Linked DNA regions of Homo sapiens: region 2 is linked to region 1. Evidence: fine-mapped expression QTL. A gene starts in region 1. The other region holds a variant in brackets. All regions are shown on one strand. Distances are from middle to middle.

What was found. PIP is the estimated chance that this variant, and not a neighbour inherited with it, causes the effect.
Region 2: its variant is fine-mapped to the expression of FLVCR1 in aorta (GTEx, PIP 0.93).

The regions. Positions count from the first base shown.
Region 1 is chr1:212,852,337-212,862,593 of GRCh38, reverse strand. FLVCR1 (FLVCR choline and heme transporter 1) reads right to left here and starts at 4,319. Exons shown (of 10, transcript NM_014053.4): 1 at 3,404-4,319. The coding sequence starts at 4,141. FLVCR1-DT (FLVCR1 divergent transcript) reads left to right here and starts at 4,456. Exons shown (of 2, transcript NR_027286.1): 1 at 4,456-4,828; 2 at 5,676-5,990. It also overlaps the pseudogene RPS28P2. RefSeq lists silencers at 3,869-4,078, 4,159-4,218 and an enhancer at 10,019-10,257.
Region 2 is chr1:212,897,045-212,908,568 of GRCh38, reverse strand. It overlaps FLVCR1 (FLVCR choline and heme transporter 1), which reads right to left. Exons shown (of 10, transcript NM_014053.4): 10 at 9,206-11,524. Among named protein-coding and RNA genes, the nearest start is that of FLVCR1, 45 kb to the right of the region's middle. RefSeq lists an enhancer at 1-390. The variant C/T (reference allele first, on the strand shown) is at 5,272.

The sequences.
Region 1 (10,257 bases):
ACCCAAACATTTATCAACAGATAAATGGATAAACAAAATGTGGTATATTCATACAATGAAATATTATTCAGCTATTAAAAAGGAATGAAGTACTGATACAGTGCTACAACATGGATGAACTTTGCAAATAAGCTAAGTGAAAGAAGCCAGACACAAAAGGTCACCTACTGTATGATTCCATTTATATGAAATATCCAGAACAGGTCAATCCACAGAAAGAGAAGGGAAACTAGTACTTGCCACAGGCTAGGGGAGGGGGCAATGGTGGGGAAGTGACTGTTTAGTAGGTATTGGGCCTTCTTTGCGGGTGGATAAAAATGTTTTGAAACTAGACAGAAGTAACAGTTGCACAACACTGTAAATGTACTAAACGCCACTGAATTGTACACATTAAAATGGTTAGTTTTATTTATGTGAATTTTACCTCAACAAAAAATATGGCTAAATATCATAATCACAAGAAATAAAATCAAACTATTAGGAGGTTCAATGGAGGAAGGTTTTTAGGAGGAAGATTTTTAGGAGGAAGGGCGTGAGGAGGAAGGGCCCAAGAAAGGAGTCTGAGGCAGAGATAGTCACACTTATCAAATATTTCATTTGCTCCCTTACAAAAAGCTAGATAGAGGCCAGGCGCGGTGGCTCACACCTGTAATCCCAGCACTTTGGGAGGCCGAGGTGGGGGGATCACGAGGTCAGGAGATCGAGACCATCCTGGCTAACATGGTGAAACCCAGTCTCTACTAAAAAATACAAAAAATTAGCCGGGTGTGGAGGCGGGTGCCTGTAGTCCCAGCTACACGGGAGGCTGAGGCAGGAGAATGGCATGAACCCGGGAGGCAGAGCTTGCAGTGAGCCAAGATCGCGCCACTGCACTCCAGCCTGGGGGACAGAGCAAGACTCCATCTCAAAATAAATAAATAAATAAATAAAAATAAAACAAAAAGCTAGATAGAAAGAATATAACTGGTAATTACAAGAGAGGGTGGTAATACAGTACTGTGATTGAGACGTAAACAGTGCCAAGACTGGGGAGACCACGTAATTTACTATCCATCTAGAATACTCTTCAGAATGAAAGGGACTTCATTAGTAATCATACCAGACAACAGGTGTACCACCTGGACTATCCCAAGCAAACTGGGACATATGATCATGGTAGCTAAGAGAGTACTTTGGGGGAGCACCTTATATAGAAATATTATTCAGCTATCAAAAAGAATGAAAAGAAATGGGGTTCAGAAAAAGTTCCTGGAGGAGCAAAGATCTGAATAAGAAATTGGAGTTAGTCAAGTGAAGAAATATTCCAAGCCAACAGGACATTACATACAAGGCCAGGAGGGAAAGGGCACGACCTTGTGAGAAACTATAAGTAGGCATAGTTCTGCACAGAGCAGAGAAAGCATATGTCTGTGGGGACAGGGGTTGTGCATACAGATAAAGTGGAAGGGCTGGCAGGAGGCAGATCTGGAGGGTCCCATATGTCACACTAGAGTGTTTGAATTTTATCCTAAGGACAATGGAAGCCACTGCAGGGGGTAAGGATGTGCCCGGAACAGATTTGCACATTGTAAAAGACCACGCTGGATGAATGCGAGAACAGAGGGAAGACAGCAAGGGCTACAGATAGGGAGGACAGTTAGCAAGCTCTAGGTGAGAGCTGTGGGTGGCCCAAACCAAGACAGTGGCATTAGAGATAAAGGGAAATGAGCAAGGAGAAAGCAATTTTGAGTGGTGTGTTCCCATGAGATATCCAAGTAGACTATCCAGCTGGCCAGTATCTGTATGAGTCTGAAGCTCCTTTATTTATTCAACATGGTTTTATGGAGAGTAATAAATGCTGGTGATACAGCTGTGTACATTCAGACCACATTCCTATTTTCATGAAACTTACAATCTAATGGTGGGGATAAGAGAAAAGTAATAGGTAAGTAACATATGAACATGTAAACAATAACATATGAGACAGGGATGAGTGCTATAAGGAGAATTAAAGTAAAATAATGTAAAGAGAGTGACTGGGCAACTCTAAATGGGATCAAGAAATGCTACTGAATATTTAAAAATGAATTTAAACTGAGAGATGTGTGACAAAGAAAATGTAATCATGGCCGGGCGTGGTGGTTCACACCTGTAATCCCAGCACTTCGGGAGGCAGAGGTGGGCAGAGAGCTTGAGCTCAGCAGTTCGAGACAAGCATGAGCAACATGGAGAAACCCCATTTCTACAAAAAAAAAAAAAAAAAACCACACACACAAAAAACTTTATAATAGCTTCTGTCCAAACCTGCAGATGCAACCAACTCAAGTATCAGTCATAAATTATTTTGGACAAACAACTATAGTTCAACCTACTCCATCTTCTGTACTTTTAGATAAGGGAAATGACTATAAAGCAATAAGCATGTAGATTCTCATGCCTTGGCCACCTGAGTAGCTGGAATTACAGGCATGCACCACACCATGCCCCACTAATTTTTGTGTATTTGGTTTTGCCATGTTGGCCAGGCTGGTCTCAGACTCCTGGCCTCAAGTGATCCGCCTGCCTCAGCCTCCCAAAGTGCTGAGATTACAGGCGTGAGCCACCACGCCCAGCCCAGAACTTTTGGTTAGCAGTCATTTATGTGTCCCTTATGTGCCAGGAACTGTGCTGACTGCTAATATATGAAATTAAAAGGGAGCTGTTCACAATGACCTCTCAAAATGGAAACAATCTTCCCAGAACCCAATACCTTCCTTTCACAAATACACTGGTGACAAAAATAATACCCCAAGTCTTGTTCGTTACTGCATTGACAAATTTTCCATGTTAGGCATACACAAGCCAATACAGTTAATTATTATTATTATTATTATGGTTACAGTTTATTATTATTATTTGAGACAGAGTCTCACTCTGTCACCCAAGCTGGAGTGCAAAGGTGCAATCTCCGCTCACTGCAACCTCCACCTCCCGGGTTCAAGAGATTCTCCTGCCTCAGCCTCCTGAGTTGCTGGGACTACAGATACCCGCAAGCAGGCCTGGCTAATTTCTGTATTTTTAACAGAGACGGGGTTTCCCCATGTTGCCCAGGCTGGTCTGGAACTCCTGACTTGAAGTGATCCACCCACCTCGGCCTCCCAAAGTGCTGGGATTACAGGTGTGTGCCACCGCGCCCGGCCCAGTTAATTATTTTATAGGTAATTTTCAAAGCAAGATGACAAGGTCGTTTGGAAAATTTTGTCCTTACAAAGAAATTTATAGCCCACTTCAATCCAAGACGGCCTCCTATTCAACGGCTTCATCTCCTCTTTTATAGACAAATACCTCCTGGGGCAGTTCATCCATACAGGCCATAGTTCTCACGGCCTATGACTTTTTCCGGTCTTTTAAGGATCTGACTTTCACCTACCACTCCAGTACTTACCTGATTGCCCAGCACGGCGGTGGCACAAGCTGTGGACACCTCTTTGGGCCCAAACCACACTGAGGCGATGCGGGAGGGCAAGCCCAGGATGAACACCTGGGCCACCGAGCACAAGCACTGGCCCAACATGGTGACCCAGAAGAGATGCTGCTGCACACTGCCGCACTTGATCCAGGCACCCAGGCAGTTGAGGCCGGAGCCCAGCAGGGCGGTGAGCCGCAGGCCTCTGGTGTCCAGCAGCCAGGTGGCCGGGAAGATGAGGGGCACGTAGGCCAGCATGTACACCATGGACAGCCAGTCGATGTGCAGCAAGGTGACACCGTAGAAGCCCTCGAAGACGTTGCTAATGATGCTGTACTGGATCCACTGAAAGGCGTTGACCAGCGAGTACAGGCTGAAGATCAGGAGCACCACGAAGCGCCGCGGGGAGAGCGCCGTAAGGGGCAGCGGGCTGCTCTCGGCCCCCGGGGTCTCAGCTCCCGCGCCCGCAGGCAGCAGCCGGGCCTGGGTCTCCTCTTCTGGGGCCAGTGGAGTCTGAGGCCCGCCCAGAACTCCCGAGGCGGCAGCGAGGCTGTCCCGGGGGGCCCCATTCACCGGGAAGGTGCCCGCTTTGGGCCCGTTCTGCAGCTCCACGCTCTCCTTCCCAACGGGCGCGCCCCTCGGCAACGGGAGGTATCCTTTCGCGAGCGGGTGTCCGGGCGCCACCGCCGCCCCCTCCTCATCGTCTGGCCGCGCCATATCCCAGGCTCCCCGGCGCCACCTCGCTCCCCCGCCCCACTCCCCGACTCCGCTCTCCCGGCCCACAGCCCGAGGTCCTCCTGGGGCCCCACCTCCAACCCCTCGGCCCACCGCTCCTTCCCCGGTGGCGCGCGCCGCGAACCGCAATCCGCGCTACCGCGTGAACAGATGAAGGTCTCCTCCCCCGCGCCGCGCGGCAGTCACCCCTTGTCTGGTCCCGCCCCTAGAGTCGCGCGTCCTGCATGACTACGGCCCTCCGGCCAATCAGCGTGCGCCTTTGTCCGGCGCGAGAGCCAGTCGGGGAGCTACCGGGCGAGAACTTCGGGAGGCGGGGGAGGAAAGCGGCCGGCGAGCGCTGGCTGACATTTTCCTGCCCGGAAGGATGCATGGCCCGGGGTCTCCTGCACCTGAGGGTGGGCGGGAGGCGGCCCCGCGGGTTGTGTTGCTGGAAAAAGGGGTCTCGATCCAGACCCCAAGAGAGGGTTCTTGGGTCTACTTCAGGGAAGAATTGGAGGCGAGTCACAGAGCGCAGTGAAGGAAGCAAGTTTATTGGAATCTACTCCGTTAGAGAGTGCAAGTCCTCAGACTGCAGGAGGAGGAACTCCCGTCCTTCGGTAGTGTCACTACTTAGAGGCAGCTGTGAGGAGCTGTGATTAATCGTGGAATGTGCTGATGTGCCCACTAAAGGTAGGGGCTGTTGGTGCACTAATGACCATTAATCCTTCAACCTAAGCCTGCGCATTGACGTTATCTCTGAGTAGAGGGCTGGGCCGGGCTCGGTGGCCACGTCTGTAATCCCAGCACTGTGGGAGGCCGGACAGGAGTCTCCCTTGAGCCCAGGAGTTCGAGACCAGCCTGGGCAACATACTGAGATGCCATCTATTTAAAAAAAAAAAAAAAAAAAAAAAAGCCAGTAGCCAGGCGTGGTGGTGCATGCCTGTAGTCCCAGCTACTCAGGAGGCTGAGGCAGGAGAACTACTTGAACCTGGGAGGCGGAGGTTGCAGTGAGCTGAGATCGCACCACACTGCCCTCCAGCCTAGCCTGGGCGACAAAGTGAGACCTTGTCTAAAAAAAAAAAAAAAACTCAGGACATCTGGACAATTCCGCAGACTTGGTGGGAGATGTCCTGTATGGCCATAAATATTGTGTAATTATAATTGTTGGTCAGCTTAGAATGCGGCTATTTTCAGACCTTTAGCATTAACCTTATAGGTGCCTTGTGAGTGCCTAGTTACTCACTTTAACATGCAGTCGCTCTAGCCATGTTTTATTAAACCAGATGCCTGGTAAGCAGTGGCTCCTCTAACAAGTGGGCAGCTTGGAACTGGGAACGAGAGAGCCACCGAAACAGAATGAGGGAGACAAAGAAGTGGGCATCACCCTTAACTCCACAAGGGCTTCCCAAGGGCGCTGTACCGTACGCAGGCCCAGGACGAACTTTATTTCTCGCCCCAGCATCGCTGTCCTTGTCGGTGAGACCCTGGCTTTAGGGCAGACAGGACCACGTTTCATAAGTTCATGCTGTCCCAGCAGAGGAATAACGCCAGAAAGTGTTCCAGTACAACCAGAGAAAGAGAGTCCATGAGAAATCTGCCCTTGTGAAGTTGGAATCCCCTCAACCTCACCCCGCTGACTTGAATGAAGCGACTGAGACGGGCTATGATGGAGCAGATCCGGTTGCTCGACCTTCTCCCTTGCACCAACACATGTAGTTAATAGTTACTGGACATGCATATTCAGTGGGTTCCAGGTACCAAACTTGTATTGAATGGTATGTGCCAGACACCGTCTTGAGATCTGGAGAATAAAAAAATAAAAAAATAAAAACGAGACATCCAGAGCACAGTAGCCTTGCGGTCTTCCTGGAACTAGAGAAAATTCAGCCCTTCTGCTCCTTGGGAAGCTATGTTTGGGAAAAAAAAAAAAAGAGAGAGAGAGAGACTCCAAAGAGTTTGTTATTAAATTTAAGTTCAAACTAGGTGTATATAGTACAAAAGTTCTTACCATGCATTTAATCTTAAAATGTGCTGATATCTAGAACCCTAAAACCCTGCACTTTTTTATTGCCTCTTACATTATTATTTTGGTCATGTATGAAATATATCAGGCATCTCTCGGTACAGGTGAAATGCTACATGTTCTAAACTAAGGAATAAGTGCATTATTATAATGTCTTCCTTGGCCAAACTGTATAAATCCCCCCCTCCGCCCGCCCCGGCCAACATCCCTTCCCTGCTTTTTTTTTTCTTTCTTTCCTAGTGCTTACCTTCACCTAAAATGTCCTATATTTTTACTTTTTTTTTCTGGTTATTTTCTTTCTTTCTTTTTTTTTTTGACAGTCTTGCTCTGTCACCCAGGCTGGAGTGCAGTGGCGCGATCTCGGCTCACTGCAACCTCCACCTCCCAGGTTCAAGCGATTCTTCTGCCTCAGCCTCCCGAGTAACTGGAACTACAGGCCCGCGCCATCATGCCTGGCTAATTTTTGTATTTTTCTTTAGTGGAGACAGGGTTTCACCATATTGGCCAGGCTGGTCTTGAACTCCTGACCTCGTGATCCGCCCGCCTCAGCCTCGCAAAGTGCTGGGATTACAGGCCTGAGCCACCGAGCCTGGCCTCTTTCTTTCTTTTCTTTCTTTCTCTCTCTCTTTCTTTCCTTCTCTCTCTCTCTCTCGGCTGACCACCAAGCCTGAGTACTTTTTGTATTTTTTGTAGAGATGGGGTTTTGCCACATTGCTCAGACTGGTCTCAACTGATCAGCTCACTTCGGCCTCCCAAAGTGCTAGGATTACAGGCATGAGCCATTGTGCTGGGCCTTTTTCTGGTTATTTTCTCCCTGCCCACTAGAATGTGAGTTCCATAAGGGCAGGGCTGAAAGTTTTGTTGCTTTTTGCTACCGCTACTATTTTTCAAGAATTTGTAACCAGTGTACTTTGTGCGAGTACCTAGCACATAGTAGCTGTTCAATAAATATTTACTGAGTACAGCTAATGAATACTGAATTACCGTGAATATTTTAAATAATTACTTGCTTTGTAAAGAAATCTATTTCTTCTCTCTGCCCAACTGCTGCTGCATCGCCATCACAGACACCAGCCATGTGCAGCCTATCTAGCTAGCCAGGGTCACCAAGGTCCTGGGCAGAACCAGCTCTCAGGGACAGTGCATGCGGGAATTTATGGAAGACACAAGCCACTCCATCATCCACAGTGTAAAAGACCCCATGCGCAAGGGCTATGTGCTCACCCTGTTGGAGTCAGAGCGAGAGGCCTGGAGGTTGCACTGAGCTTGGCTGCTCACTGGGTCTTGGATGTTGGGTTCGACCACTTGGTCCATGAGAATGCTGTGCCATGATCTGCTCCTTTATTTTATTTGCCAGCCGCACAGGAATTGAGATATGCATTTAAATAAAGTGTTTGTGTGCCAAATTAGAAAGAAAAGAAAGGAAAGAGACAAAGAAAGAAGAGAGAGAGAAAGAAAGAAAGAGAGAAAAAGAAAGGAAGGAAGGAAAAAAGGAGGGAGGAGAGAAGGAAGGAAATCTTTTTTTAAATTATTATTATTATTTTTTTTTTTTTTTTGAGACGGAGTTTCGCTCTTGTCACCCAGGCTGGAGTGCAGTGATGCGATCTCGGCTCACTGCAACCTCTGTTTCCGGGGTTCAAGCGATTCTCCCTCCTCAGCCTCTCAAGTAGCTGGGATTAAGGCGCCCACCACCACGTGAAATCTGTTTCTTAAAAAAAAAAAATCTTGGCCAGGTGCAGTGGCTTACGCCTGTAATCCCAGCACTTTAGGAGGCCGAGGCGGGTGGATCACGAGGTCAGGAGATCAAGACCATCCTGGCTAACACGGTGAAGCCCATCTCTACTAAAAATACAAAATATTAGCCGGGCATGGTGGTGGGCGCCTGTAGTCCCAGCTACTCGAGAGGCTGAGGCAGGAGAATAGCGTAAACCCAGGAGGTGGAGCTTGCAGTGAGCCGAGATCGCGCCACTGCACTCCAGCCTGGGCGATAGAGCGAGACTCCGTCTCAGAAAAAAACAAAAACAAAAACAAAAACAAAAAAAGTCTTGCAAACTTCCAGAAGGAAGGGAAGGAGGGAGTGAAATCTATTTCTTTCTCTTTTCCTTTTTCTTTTTTTGACACAGAGCTTTGCCCTTGGAGTCCAGGCTGGAGTGCAATGATGAAATCTCAGCTGACTGCAACTTCTGCCTCCCGGGTTCAAGTGATTCTCCTGCCTCAGCCTCCCAAGTAACTGAGATTACAGGTGCCCACACCCGGGTAATTTTTGTATTTTTAGTAGAGACAGGGTTTCTCCATGTCGGTCAGGCTGGTCTCGAACTCCTGACCTCAGGTGATCCACCTACCTCAGCCTCCCAAAGTGCTGGGGTTACAGGCATGAGCCACCGTGCCCGGCCACCATTCTAATTTCTTAATCTTGTCTTCTTTCTCTGGCTTCAGTGGTAGATATTTATTAACCAGTTTAAACATGAGTCATTATTTATATCAAATGTTTGGATGTATAACGTAAAATGAACCTTAATCTCTGTCAAAAAAGATACTACTGGGAGCATCGTTTGGCTGGGAGTCAAGATGAGATTGAGCTACTTTATGGGTGTGGAATGCCAAGTCAGAGAGATTTGAATAAGTAACACTTCAGCAATATGAGATCTGGACAGCATCCAGGAGCCAAGGTCCAAGATGCTAATAGGAGTGATGTAGCTGTCCCTGAACAAAGGTTTGCCACAGTTTACGAGCCTCAGAGGTTAAGATGCAAACCAGAACAATGCTATTGGATGTGCAATCCATGATGTTTCATGGGGAGGTGGGTAGATTTGGGCAACCTTGCCTTCAGTTTACTCCTACTAGCATCAGGCTCTGTCCACCTGATCAGCAGAGGCTATATGGTTCTATTTTGTGAAAAGATCAAGTTGGAAATGGAGGAGTAGAGGAGAAGGTTGGAAATCAGAATCCTCCCACATGTATTCTTCCCTCCATTGAGACATTTTATTTGTATATATTTATTCCTGAAAAAAAAAAAAAAAAAAGAGTCCCAGGATTTTTTCTCCTGTGTTTTTGTCTTGTTTCTTCTCGGTCCATGATGCCAGTTGAGGTCATCAGTACAGCGAAACCAAACTGGTGAGATGGGAACAAATTATTCTGTCACTTTTCTAGATCTTTTTATTTATTTTTTTATTTATTTTTTGAGATGGAGTCTCGCTCTTGTTGCCCAGTCTGGAGTGCAATGGCGAGCCTGGGTTCAAGACCAGCCTGGGTAACATGGCGAAACCCCTTCTCTACCAAAAAAATACAGTATTTAGCTGGGCCTGGTGCATGCCTGTAGTCCCAGCTACCTGAGAGGCTGAGGTGGGAAGATCGCTTGAGCCCAGGAGGTCAAGGCTGCAATGGGCTGAGATCACGCCACTCCAGCCTAGGCAACAGAGTGAGGCCTTGTCAAAAAAAAAAAAGAGAGAGAGAGAGATACAAGCCTTCAGAGACCCTCATATTAACTTCATGGTAAATCTGCCTCTGCTCACCCCTCCCACCTGTAGCAACTAATATCTTCATTTCCAGATTTACTCTGAAAAAACTGTGCAACTGCTTCACATGTTTCCTCTTGATTCACTAATTTGTAACTCACTTACTGAAACTCTGATGAAAGAATTGAGTCAAAAAATAAATAGACCTCCTTCCCAGCCCTGGCTTGTTCAGAGCATCTACTACAGAGGAGTCTTAAGGGTTTTGTATGCTTAGAGTTGAGAGACCAAATAGCTCCTGAAAACTGTAGCTAGAGGAAATGCCATATGGAGACAGGCCACAAGGAGAACTCAAGCCCCTGTAAACCAAAAATGAAATATTCTAAGCCCCCAATTTACTAAACAGATTCAACCTCCCACTTCAGCCTCCCAAATAGCTGGGATTACAGGCGCATGCAACCATGCCCGGCAAATTTTTGTGTTTTTTGTAGAGATGGGGTTTCGCCATGTTGGCCAGGCTGGTCTTGAACTCCTGACTTCAAGTGATCTGTCCACCTCACCCTCCCAAAGTGCTGGGATTAGTGAGCCACTGCAACAGCCCTCTAACACTTATTTCTGAAGTTTTTTTTCTTCCCTCCTTCTCG
Region 2 (11,524 bases), 45 kb before region 1:
AAATTCCTTCTCCTGGCTCATCTTGGCTCAAAAGCTCCCCTACTGAGCACCTTGTGACCCCCACTCTGCCCGCCAGAGAACAACCCCCCTTTGACTGTAATTTTCCTTTATCTACCCAAATCCTATAAAATGGCCCCACCCTTATCTCCTTTCGCTGACTCTCTTTTCGGACTCAGCCCGCCTGCACGCAGGTGAAATAAACCACCTTGTTGCTCATACAAAGCCTGTTTGGTGGTCTCTTCACACGGACGCGCATGAAACCTACCTCAGGTGATCCGCCCACCTCAGCCTCGCAAAGTGCTGGGATTACAGGTGTGAGCCACAGCACCCGGCCGATGAATACTTTCAAAGGGCTCATGGTACAGTTGAGGCAGTGAGGTAATGCACATAAATAACAGAAGAAAACCATTCAAGGAATCTACCTTATGAATAAGAGTACCAAGTATTGAATAACGTTGCAAAGAATGAGTTTATTGCTGTGTATAGCCTCTCCAGGGACATCTTTTTAAATTCTGAGCTCCTGATGACACAATAGAAAGCTCTGGCCATGGACAAATTCTGCCCTAGCTGGAATGACCCAGATCTTGTCCGTCTTGGTTTGGGGTCAAAGTATGTTTTGAAGGATTCAGCCTTTTCACTGAAAAAGAAAGCACTGTCAGTCCTATTTCAGCCTCATTTTAATTTTTATGCATTATGAAACTTTATAAAAATCTAATTTATCATTTTATCTCAGGGAGTTTGGGGCCAGTTCATCCCTGGAAGAATCAAATGTTTTCCTCATTATGGGAATGAGAGGTATGCTCAAGCAGCATTTGTCAACCGAAACCTATGGGCTCCAACCAGAAATCAAGTTTCCACTGGTTTCCGCCAGGTTGTTCTCTTTACAGTTACCATTTCGCCCACGGGTTAAAATAATCAAGATAAAGGGAAAAGTGCAAATGGGTACATATAACAAGATAAAACAAAGGCTTAATACGTCACTTGTCGAAATGGAAAATGAGGCTCATATGTCTTATTTTAATGAGTCCTTTCTAAATTTCTCTCCTGTGCCGTCCTTTTCTCCTTTCTCAAGGCTATAGGGCCTCCAAGCCCCATCTCCTCCTCCCTCCTATTCAAACCTGCTTGCAGGACAGCCATCAGACTTAAGATGAGATATTCCCTCTTGGTAGTCTGGTGTGCTTTGAAACCTTCTCTCTCTTTAGGGACCCAAAAATATCGTATCTCCGGTGAAAGGTCATAAAGGCATCTTCCAGGCATGGGATCCTGTCAAGGGCCCTGAAATTACTTCAGGGCGGGATGTCACCTATTAGTTTGACCAACTCTTCCTGCAGAAAGTGAGGGGCAGTGTGGTGAGGACAAGAAGCTGACACTAACAGGTGGCTTACAGGAAAGAGGTGACTTCAGAAATGTGTTACTTACCTAGATTTCTTCGCCTGCTATTGAAAATAAAGAGTATCTTTTTTTCTGGATGGAAGTAGTTTTTCCCACTGAAAATCTAAATGTAAATTTTAGTGATTCTGAATGGGATCTGAGAAAGGTCTTAGATTTTAAAGTTCCTATTTCTTATAGGGTAGCCGGTAACAGATAAAATGCCATGTTATTATTTTATATTTTAAACAGTTTCATGGCTTTTGCCTCAAATATTTAGCTGTTTGTAAAACTAAATAATGCTGGAAACTTTATCCTGAAATATCATACTAATTATAATTTAAATGGCATGACAACAGATGGTAGTAGCAGCTTTTTATAACTCTTCGTTTACACAGAGGTAGTATCTTGCTTTGCAGCTACCAATTCTCTTCTCTTTGGTCTCATTAATAAAACCACCCTAAATCTTCTGCCTGTCTTTCCCTTAGGCTCCTTCTTTGTCTCCACTAACTCTTTATGTTCCACCTACCTCCTTTAATTAGAGGCCTTTGATCCTTGATCCTCCCTTACTCTTTATTCTCTCCATATTCTGGCATTGTGAATCATTGATCAATGTAGTGATAGCCAGTTTCTCCTTTCTAGAAGCAAGACCCTTTTCAGGGAATCCATAATGTCCAAACTCTTTTCATAATAATACAAAGAAGTTATATACCTTTTTCACTATGTTGACATTTGCAATGATGGTGCAAAAGTGGTGGCGGGCAAAATTGCTGTTCTACGCTAAAAGTTTAGTCCCACTTGTTTATGTTTGCTTTTGCTGTCTCTGTTTTTGGTGTCATATTAAAAAAAAATCATTGCTCATCAATGCCTATGTTTCCTCCTTACATTTTATGATTTCAGGTCTTATATTTAAGTCTTTGTTGTTGTTGTTGTTGTTATTGAGATAAGGTCTCATTCTGTCACTCAGGCTGGAGTGCAGTGGTGCAATCTCGGCTTACTGCAGCTTCAACCTCCTGGGCTCATGAGATTCTTCCAACTCAGCTTTCCTGAGTAGCTGAGACCACAGGCGTGTGCCACCATACCTGGCTAATTTTTAAATTTTTTTTGGTAGAGGCGAGGTCTTACTATGTTGCCCAAGCTGTCCTCAAACTCCTAACTCAAGTGATCCTTCCACCACGGCCTCCCAAAGTGCTGGGATTACAGGCATGAGCCACCACACCTGCCCTGTCTTTAATCCATTTGAGTTGATGTTTGTGTATGATGTAAGATAAGAATCCAATTTCATTTTTTTTTTTTTTTTGCATGTGGTTATCCAGGTTTCCCAACAGTATCTATTGAAGACTATCCCTTCCACATTGTGTATTCTTGTCACAGATTAATTGACAGTGTATGTATGAGTTTATTTCTGGGCTTTCTGTTCCATTGGCCTAGTTTGTTTTTATGAGAGTATCATGCCGTTTTGATTACAGTAACTTTGTAATATAATTTGAAATCAGGAAGTGTGATACAACTTTGATCTTTCTCAAGTTTGCTTTAGCTATTCAAGTTCTCTTGAGGTTCCACACAAATTTTAAGATTGTTCTATTTTTATGAAAAATGCGATTGGAATTTTGAGAGAAATTGTGTTTAATCTTAAGGTTGCTTTGGGTAGTTGGACATTTTGACAATATTGATTCTTCTGATCCATGTACTTGGGATATCTTCCCATTAATTTGTCTTCAATTTCTTGCATCAATGCATTATAGTTTTCATTGTACAGATTTTTCACCTCCTTGATTAAACTTATTTCTGAGTACTTTATTCTTTTTGATCTTATTGTAAATGAAATTTTTTGCTTAGTTTTTCAGATAGTTCATTAGTATATAGAAATGCAACTGTTTTCATATGTTGATTTTGTATCCAGCAACTTTCCTGAATTTATTTTTAAATGTTTTTTCATAGAATCTCTAGAGATTTTTATACATAAGATCATGTTATCTGCACACAATTTTAATTCTTCCTTTCAGGTCTGGATGCCTTTTATTTCTTTTTCTTATCTAATTACTCATGTTAGAACTTCCAGTCCTACTAAATAGAAGTGGTAAGAGTGGACCTCCTTGCCTTGTTCTGGATCTTAGAGGAAGAGATTTCAGCTTTTTCACCATTGAGTATAATGTTAGCTGTGGGCTTTTCATAAATGATCTTTATTGTGTTGAGGTTAAGCTCCTTCTATGTCTTTTTTTTTTTTTGAGGTTTTATCATGAAAGGGTGTTGAATTTTGTCAAATACTTTTTCTGCATCTATTGAGGTGACTATATAATTTTTACCCTTATAGTATATCACATTTATTGAATTGTATATGTTGAACCATCCTTATATCCCTGGGATAAATCCCATTTGATCATAGTGTATGATCCTTTTAATGTGTTGTTAAATTTGGTTTGCTAGTATTTTGTGGAGGATCAGGGATACTGGCCTGTAATTTTATTTTCTATAATGTCCTTGACTGGTTTTGGTATCAGGGTAATGCTGACAATTAGTTTGGAAGTGTTCGTCCTCTGAAATTTTATGGAACACTTTAAGAAGGACTAGTATTATTTTCTTTGAATGTGTGGTAGAATTCACCAGTGAAGCCACTGGGACTTTGGTTTTTCTTCTACGGACAATTTTTGATTACTGATACAATCTACTTACTTGTTATTGGTATACTCAGATTTTCTATCTCTTCATGACTCAGTCTTGGTAGGTTGTATGTTTATAGAAATTTATCAATTTCTAGGTTATCCAGTTTGTTGAAGTACAATTGTTCATAATAGTCTCATGATTCTTTGTATTTCTGTGGTATCAGTTGTAATATCTCCTCTTTCATTTACAATTTCATTTGAGACTTCTCTTTTTCTTACTCTAAGGTTCATCAATTTTGTTTTTCTTTTCAAAAAATACAACTCCTAGTTTCACTGATCTTTTCTATTATTTTTCTAGTCTATATTTCATTTATTTCTGTTCTCATCTTTGTCATTTACTTCCTTCTACTAATTTTGGGCTTAATTTGTTCTTCTTTGTCTAGTTCCTTCAGGTGTAAAGTTAGGTGATTTATTTAAGATATTTCTTCATGTGGCCATTTATTGTTATAATTTCCCTCCTTGAACTGTTTTTGCTGCATTCCATCAGTTTTGATATGGTAATGGAAATAGAAAGTATTTCTATTTTCATTTGTCCCAAAATATTTTTTGATTTCCTGTTTGATTTCTTCGACTCACTAGTTGTTCAGAATCTGTTGTTTAATTTCTACATATTTTTGAATTTTCCAGTTTTCTTTCTATTGGTGGGTAATTTCATATCATTGTGAAATAATATGTAATTGTGTAATTTCCTATCATTGTAAGCATCAGAGAAGTTGCTTAATATGATATTATGTCTTAAGGAATATATGATTATTTCAATTGTATTTCTTATTTAAATGTATTTTAAAGACATTCTTTTGGGCCTAACATATGACCCATCCTGGAGAATGTTCCATGTGTACTTGAGGAAAATGTGTACTCTGTTGCTATTGGATGGAATATTCAATATATGTCCATTAAGTCCATGTGGTCTAAGGTGTAATTCAAATCCAATGTTTCCTTATTGATTTTGGCTGGATGTTCTATCAATTGTTGCAAGTGGGGTACTGAAATCCCCTATTAATTCTACTGCTATTTCTCCTTTCAGATCTGTTAATATTTGCTTTGCATAATTTTAGGTAGTCCACTGTTGGCACACACACACACATGCACACACAACTTGTTGGATCCTCTTAAATAATTGACCCCATTAAGGCCAGGCACAGTGGCTCATGTCTGTAATCCCAGCACTTTGGGAGGCCAAGGTGGGCGGATCATGAGGTCAGGAGATCGAGACCATCCTGGCCAATGTGGTGAAACC[C/T]CGTCTCTACTAAAATACAAAAAATTAGCTGGCCATGGTGGTGCAGGCCTATAGTACTGGCTACTTGGGAGGCTGAGGCAGGGGGAATTGCTTGAACCTGGGAGGCGGAGGTTGCAGTGAGCCGAGATCACACCACTGCACTCCAGCCTGGCGACAGAGCGAGACTCTGTCTCAAAAAAAAAAAAAAAAAAAATTGACTCCATTATCATTATATAATAGTCTTCTTTGTCCCTTGTTAAAGTTTTTTAGGTGTTTTTTTTGTTTGTTTTTTGACAAGAGTCTCACTCTGTTGGCCAGGCTGGAGTGCAGTTGCACGATCTCAGCTCACTGCAACCTCTGTTTCCCAGGCTCAAGCGATTCTCCTGCCTCAGCCTCCTGAGTAACTGGGATTACAGGCGTCTGCCACCACGCCCAGCTAATTTTTGTATTTTTAGTAGAGATGGGGTTTCACCATATTGGTCAGGCTGGTCTCGAACTCCTGACCTCAGGTAACCCACCTGCCTTGGCCTCCCAAAGTGCTGGGATTACAGGCGTGAGCCACCATGCCTGGCCAAAGTTTTTACTTAAAGTCCATTTTGTCTGATTTAAATATAGCTACCCTGGCCAGGTGCAGTGGCTCACAACTGTAATCCCAACATTTGGGAGGCCAAGGCAGGCAGATCACCTGAGGTCAGGCATTCAGGACCAGCCTGGCCAACACAGTGAAACTCCATTTCCTAAAAATACAAAAATTAGATGGGTGTGGTGGTGCACACCTGTAATCCCCACTACTTGGGAGGATGAAGCATGAGAATCACAAGAACCCAGGAGGTGGAGGTTGCAGTGAGCTGAGATCATGCCACTACACTCCAGCCTGGGTGGAGTGAGACTCTGTCTCAAAAATAAATAAATAAATAAAGCTACCCTGCTCTATTTCTGTTTCCATTTGTATGGATTCTCTCTTTCCATCCCTTTACGGCCTATGTATATCTTTAAAGCTAAAGTGACTCTGGTAAGCAGCATACAGTTTGGTTTTTAAATCCATTTAGCCAATCTATGTCTATGATTGGATAATTTAACCCATTTACATTTAAAGTAATTATTGACAGGTAAGAACTTACAGGCATTTTGTTGTTTTCTGGCGGTTTTAAAGATCCTTTGTCCTTTTCTTCCTCTCTTGCTGTCTTTTGTGATTAGATGATTTTCCTTAGTAGTATACTTAGATCCCTTTCTCTTTATCTGTGTGTGTCTACTACGGGTTTCTGCTTTGTGGTTAAAACAGGCTTACATAAAACATCTTATTGTCTATTTTAAGCTGATAGCAACTTAACTTTGTTCACACACAAAAACTCTACACTTTTATACGCCATTTTATGCTTTTGCTGTCACAATATTCATCCTTTTATATTGTGTATCAATTAATGAATTACCAAAGCTAGTTATTTTTAATATTTTTATTTTAGCCTATACACGAGTTAAAATGATTTACACATAACCACTGCAGTATTAGAATATTCTGATTTTGACTATATACGTATCTTTACCAGTGAGTTTTATACCTTTTTATGTTTTCATATTAGCATTAAAATTAGCATACTTTTGTTTCAGCTTGAAGAACTCCACTTAGCATTTCTCGCAAGGTAGGTCTGGTGGTGATTTAACTCCCTCAGTTTTTATTTGTCTGGGAAAGTTAATCTTTCCTTTTCTGAAGGACAGATTTATCAGGTAAAGTATTCTTGGTTAGCAGTTTATTTTTCTTTTTTAAATTTCAGCATTTTGAATATATCATCCTACTCTTCTTGGCCTGCAAGGTTTCTGCTGAGAAATCTGATAGCCTATGGGGTCTCCCTTGTATGTGATAAGCTTCTTTTTCCTTGTGCTGCTTTAAAAATTCTCTTTGATTTTTGGCTGGGCACAGTGGCTCATACCTGTAATACCAGCACTTTGAGAGGCCAAGGCAGGTGGATCACTTGAGGCCAGGAGTTTGAGACCAGCCTGGCCAACGTAGTGAAACCTTATCTCTACTAAAAATACAAAAAAAAAAAAAAAATAGCCAGCCATGGTGGTGCATGCCTGTAATCCCAGCTACTTGGGAGGCTGAGGCATGAAAATCGCTTGGGCCTAGGAGGAGGTGGTTACAGTGAGCTAAGATCATGCCACTGCACCCCAGCCTGGGAGACAAGAGTGAGACTCTGTCTCAAAAAAGAGAAAAAAAAAAAAGGAAAAAAGTTTAATTCTTTTACTTTTGACTGTTTCAGTGTAATGTGTCTTGGCAAAGTCTTCTTTGGGTTGAACCAGATTGCAGAACTTTGAGCGACATATACCTTAATGTCTGTGTCTCTCCCACATTTGAGAAGCTTTCAGCCATGCTTTATTAAATAAGCTTTCTGCTCCTTCTTTCTCTTCTCCTTTATTATTTCCATAAAGCAACTGTTAGCTCTTAATGTTGTTCCATAAATCTCATAAGCTCTCTTTAATCTTTTCATTCTTTTTCTCTCCTCTGGCTGCATATTTTCAAATGACCTGTCTTGGAATTCAGATTCTTTCTTCTGCTTGATCAAATCTGCTGTTGACTACTGCTTTTTTCCTTTCTGATTGTATTCTTCAGCAGCAGAATTTTTTTATGATTTCTCTTTGCTGAACTTCCATTTTGTTCATGCATTGTTTTTCTGATTTCATAGAGTTGTATATCTGTTCTCTTGTAGCTCACTGAATTTTCTTAAAACAATTTAAATTTATTGTCAAGCAATTCATATATCTCAATTTCTTTGGATTTGTTACTGTAATATTATTGTGCTCCTTAGGTGATATCATGTTTCCATTTTTTGTTTTCTTGAAGTCTTCCATTTCCATCCTTGCATTTGAAGAAAATCACTTCCTCCAGTCTTTATTGACTAGCTTCAGGAGAGAAATGCCTTCATCAATCTGCCTGGCTAGGAATTCTGAGGCTCTCTCCTACCTTTCCTGTGGATTCACCTGCTCCACAACCCCTGTTCCCACTTGCAGCAGGGGATTCTTAAAAGTTATATGCCTTATCTCAATCCCACAAAGCCAGGCCAGGTGCTGACAGCTTCCTGTTTGTTTCCCCTGGGGTGGTGTCCTGAAGTACTCAAGTTTGTGTACCTTGCTTCAATTCCACAATCAAGCCATCTGTCTCTATATTTGATGCTTGCAGTTGCCATCCAATGTGGCATGCTTGGGAAGCCAGCCTCAGGGAGATGGGGGTGAGGTGCACAGAGAATTTGGGGTGGCCATGGGTCATGTGGGAGGTCCATATGCAAGGTATCCCAGTGGCTGGTGAGGCTTCCTGATGGAGTCTGTGGAGTGCTGAGTAGGTTTCAGAGCCTTTCTTCCCTGCTCCCAGCCTTTCCCAACGCTTAGCTATGACAGTCACCTCAATATTTTAATTGGAGCAAGAAAGAGGTAGGGTTCTTAGGCAGCATCCCACACAGCTAGGGGCTGAGCACTCTCACTATGCTATCACCTTCTCCCATGGGAGAAATTGTGGACTGAGGGGAGTCTCTCTTGCCACTAAGCTGTGCCAACTTCAAAGAGTGATGCAGATAAAGTGAAAATCTTCTTCTTCCTTTTCTTTAATGCATTTATTCTCAGATATTTCTGCTCCAATGGTGTGCTGGAACTTCCACGTAGGACTTCTGGATTCCTACAAAAGAACTACCATCTGAAAGTACTGGTAAAAATCAATGCTTCTGTGGAAGAATGATGATATAAAGCTCCTATTCTGCCATCTTGCTAACATCACTCTCTAAAGTTACTTTTAAAGGAATAAAATATTTTAGTATCTATTTTAGCCCTGACCCTGGTAGACTTTGTTTCCTCATTTTATGTTCCATGCACTACCTCATTCCCTCTTTGCCCATTCTGAAATTTTATAATCCCTTTAAACTCCCCATGTGTACCTAAGCATCAGAATTTTTCAAAAAGTCACAGAAAATTAACATAAAAAAATAAATTTATTTTGAGTCTGAAATACTGAAGAACAAGCATACAGATAAATAGTACAAAGAACAAAAATTAGAACATGAGTAATGACTTAAGACACAGGCATTTTTCTAGCTATTGCATACAGACACATTTTTACACACAAACATATTTTTTAAAGACATCTCTCCAACATTCTCAAAAGGCAAGAGCTGTATTTGTGACATTTGTAATAAATGCAACAGCTTTTGAAACATCCAGTTTCTTTCCTAAGTCATTTGATTAAAATTCACACAAGTGATGATTACCTATTCCATTTTCTGAAAATACGACATACAGTCATGTTTCGATCAACAATTGACCACATATGACAGAGATCCTATAAGATTATAATGGAACTGAAAAATTCCTATCACCTAGTGATGCCACAGCCATTGTTACATTGTAGCACAATGTATTATCTGTTCTATGTTTAGATTACACAGATACCATTGTGTTACAGTTGCCTACAGTATTCAATACAGTACCATGCTGTACAGGTCTGTAGCCCAGAAGCGACAGACTTTGCCATCTAGCCCAGGTGTGCAGTAGGCTCTACCACCTAGGTTTGTGTAAGTACACTTCATGATGTTCACACAATGATGAAATCACCTAATGACAAATTTCTCAGAATGTAGCTCTGTCATGAAGTCACACATTACTGTAGAATTATAACATTCTTGCTTGACATATTACAGACAACTTTCACTCAAAATACAGAAAAATTATCAATTCATTTTGCATTGTCACATATTCCATCACCTTTCTAATCAACAAGGAAAAATAAACATAACATATATGTATATGCTTTTCAGAAATAAAGTATTCTAAATTTTATGTGTAATTTGTTCCAAACCTCAGGAACTCAACAAGTACATGATTATTTTAAACAACATTGATAGTTTAAAAATAAAAACATTTGGGGAGAGACCTTAAAATATATTTTTGGCCGTTTTTACCTGTAATGTAAATATCAAAGGAAGCTAATGATTGGACATACTCTGCTTGAGTTACCCTCAACTGACTAAAAAGGCTAAAAAGAAATGTAAAAGTCCGTTGTATCCATAAGGTAGCAATCACATTTGTTTATCCAATTGTCCAGGGAATTTTTCTCTGGCTGGATTCAAGTTCCTGTGATACAATAATTTGGTCTATTCCATGATTAATGGCATTTAATATTTTGGAAAGATCTTTGAGATCAAATTGAACACATTCATTTCATGGATGAGGAAAACGCTGCCCAGAGAGGTTTAATGATTTGTCCAGAGTTATAGGAACATACAGAAATACATCCAGGACATGGACACAGAGTTCCTGATTCTTAGTCAAATTCTTTAGATAACACATTCCCCAGGGTCAGATTCGACATAATTTACAGTCACTTGATTATAGAGAATGTTATAATTTCAATATATATCAATGCATATATTCTGCCTGATATAGTTGGGATACTTGTCCCTCCAATCTCACATTGAAATGTAATCCCCAATGTTGAAGGTTGGCCCTAATAGAAGGTGTTTGGGTCCTGCGGGTGGATCCCTCATGGCTTGGTGCTGTCCTTGCAGTAATGAGTGAGTTTTCACAAAATCTGGTTGTTTGAAGGTGTGTGGCACCTCCCTGCTCTCTTGCTCCTGCTTCGCCATGTGACATCTCTGCTCCCACTTAGCCTTTCACCATGAGTAAAGCTCCCTGAGGGCTCCCCAGAAGCCGAGCAGACACTGGTGCCATGCTTACACAGCCTGCAGAACTGTGAGCCACTTAAACCTCTTTTATTTATAAATTACCCAGTCTCAGGTATTTCTGTTCTTTTTTTCCTGAAACAGAGTCTCGCTCTGTCACCCAGGCTGGAGTGCAGTGGCGCAATCTCAGCTCACTGTAGCCTCCGCCTTCCAGGTTCAGGCAATTCTCATGCCTCAGCTTCCCAAGAAGCTGGGACTACAGGCGTGTGCCACCATGCCCGGCTAATTTGTGTGTGTGTGTGTGTGTGTATGTATTTTTAGTAGAGATGGGGTTTTGCCATGTTGGCCAGACTGGTCTTCAACTCCTGGCCTCAAATGATCCACCCACCTCAGCCTCCCAAAGTGCTGGGACTATAGGTGTGAGCCATCGTGCTCAACCTCAGGTTTTATTTATTTATTTATTTATTTATTTATTTATTTATTTATTTATTTGAGACAGTCTCACTTTATCTCCCAGGCTGGAGTGCAGTAGTGTGATTTTCGCTCACTGCAACCTCTGCCATTCGCATTCAAGCGATTCTCCTGCCTCAGCCTCCTGAGTAGCTGGGATTACA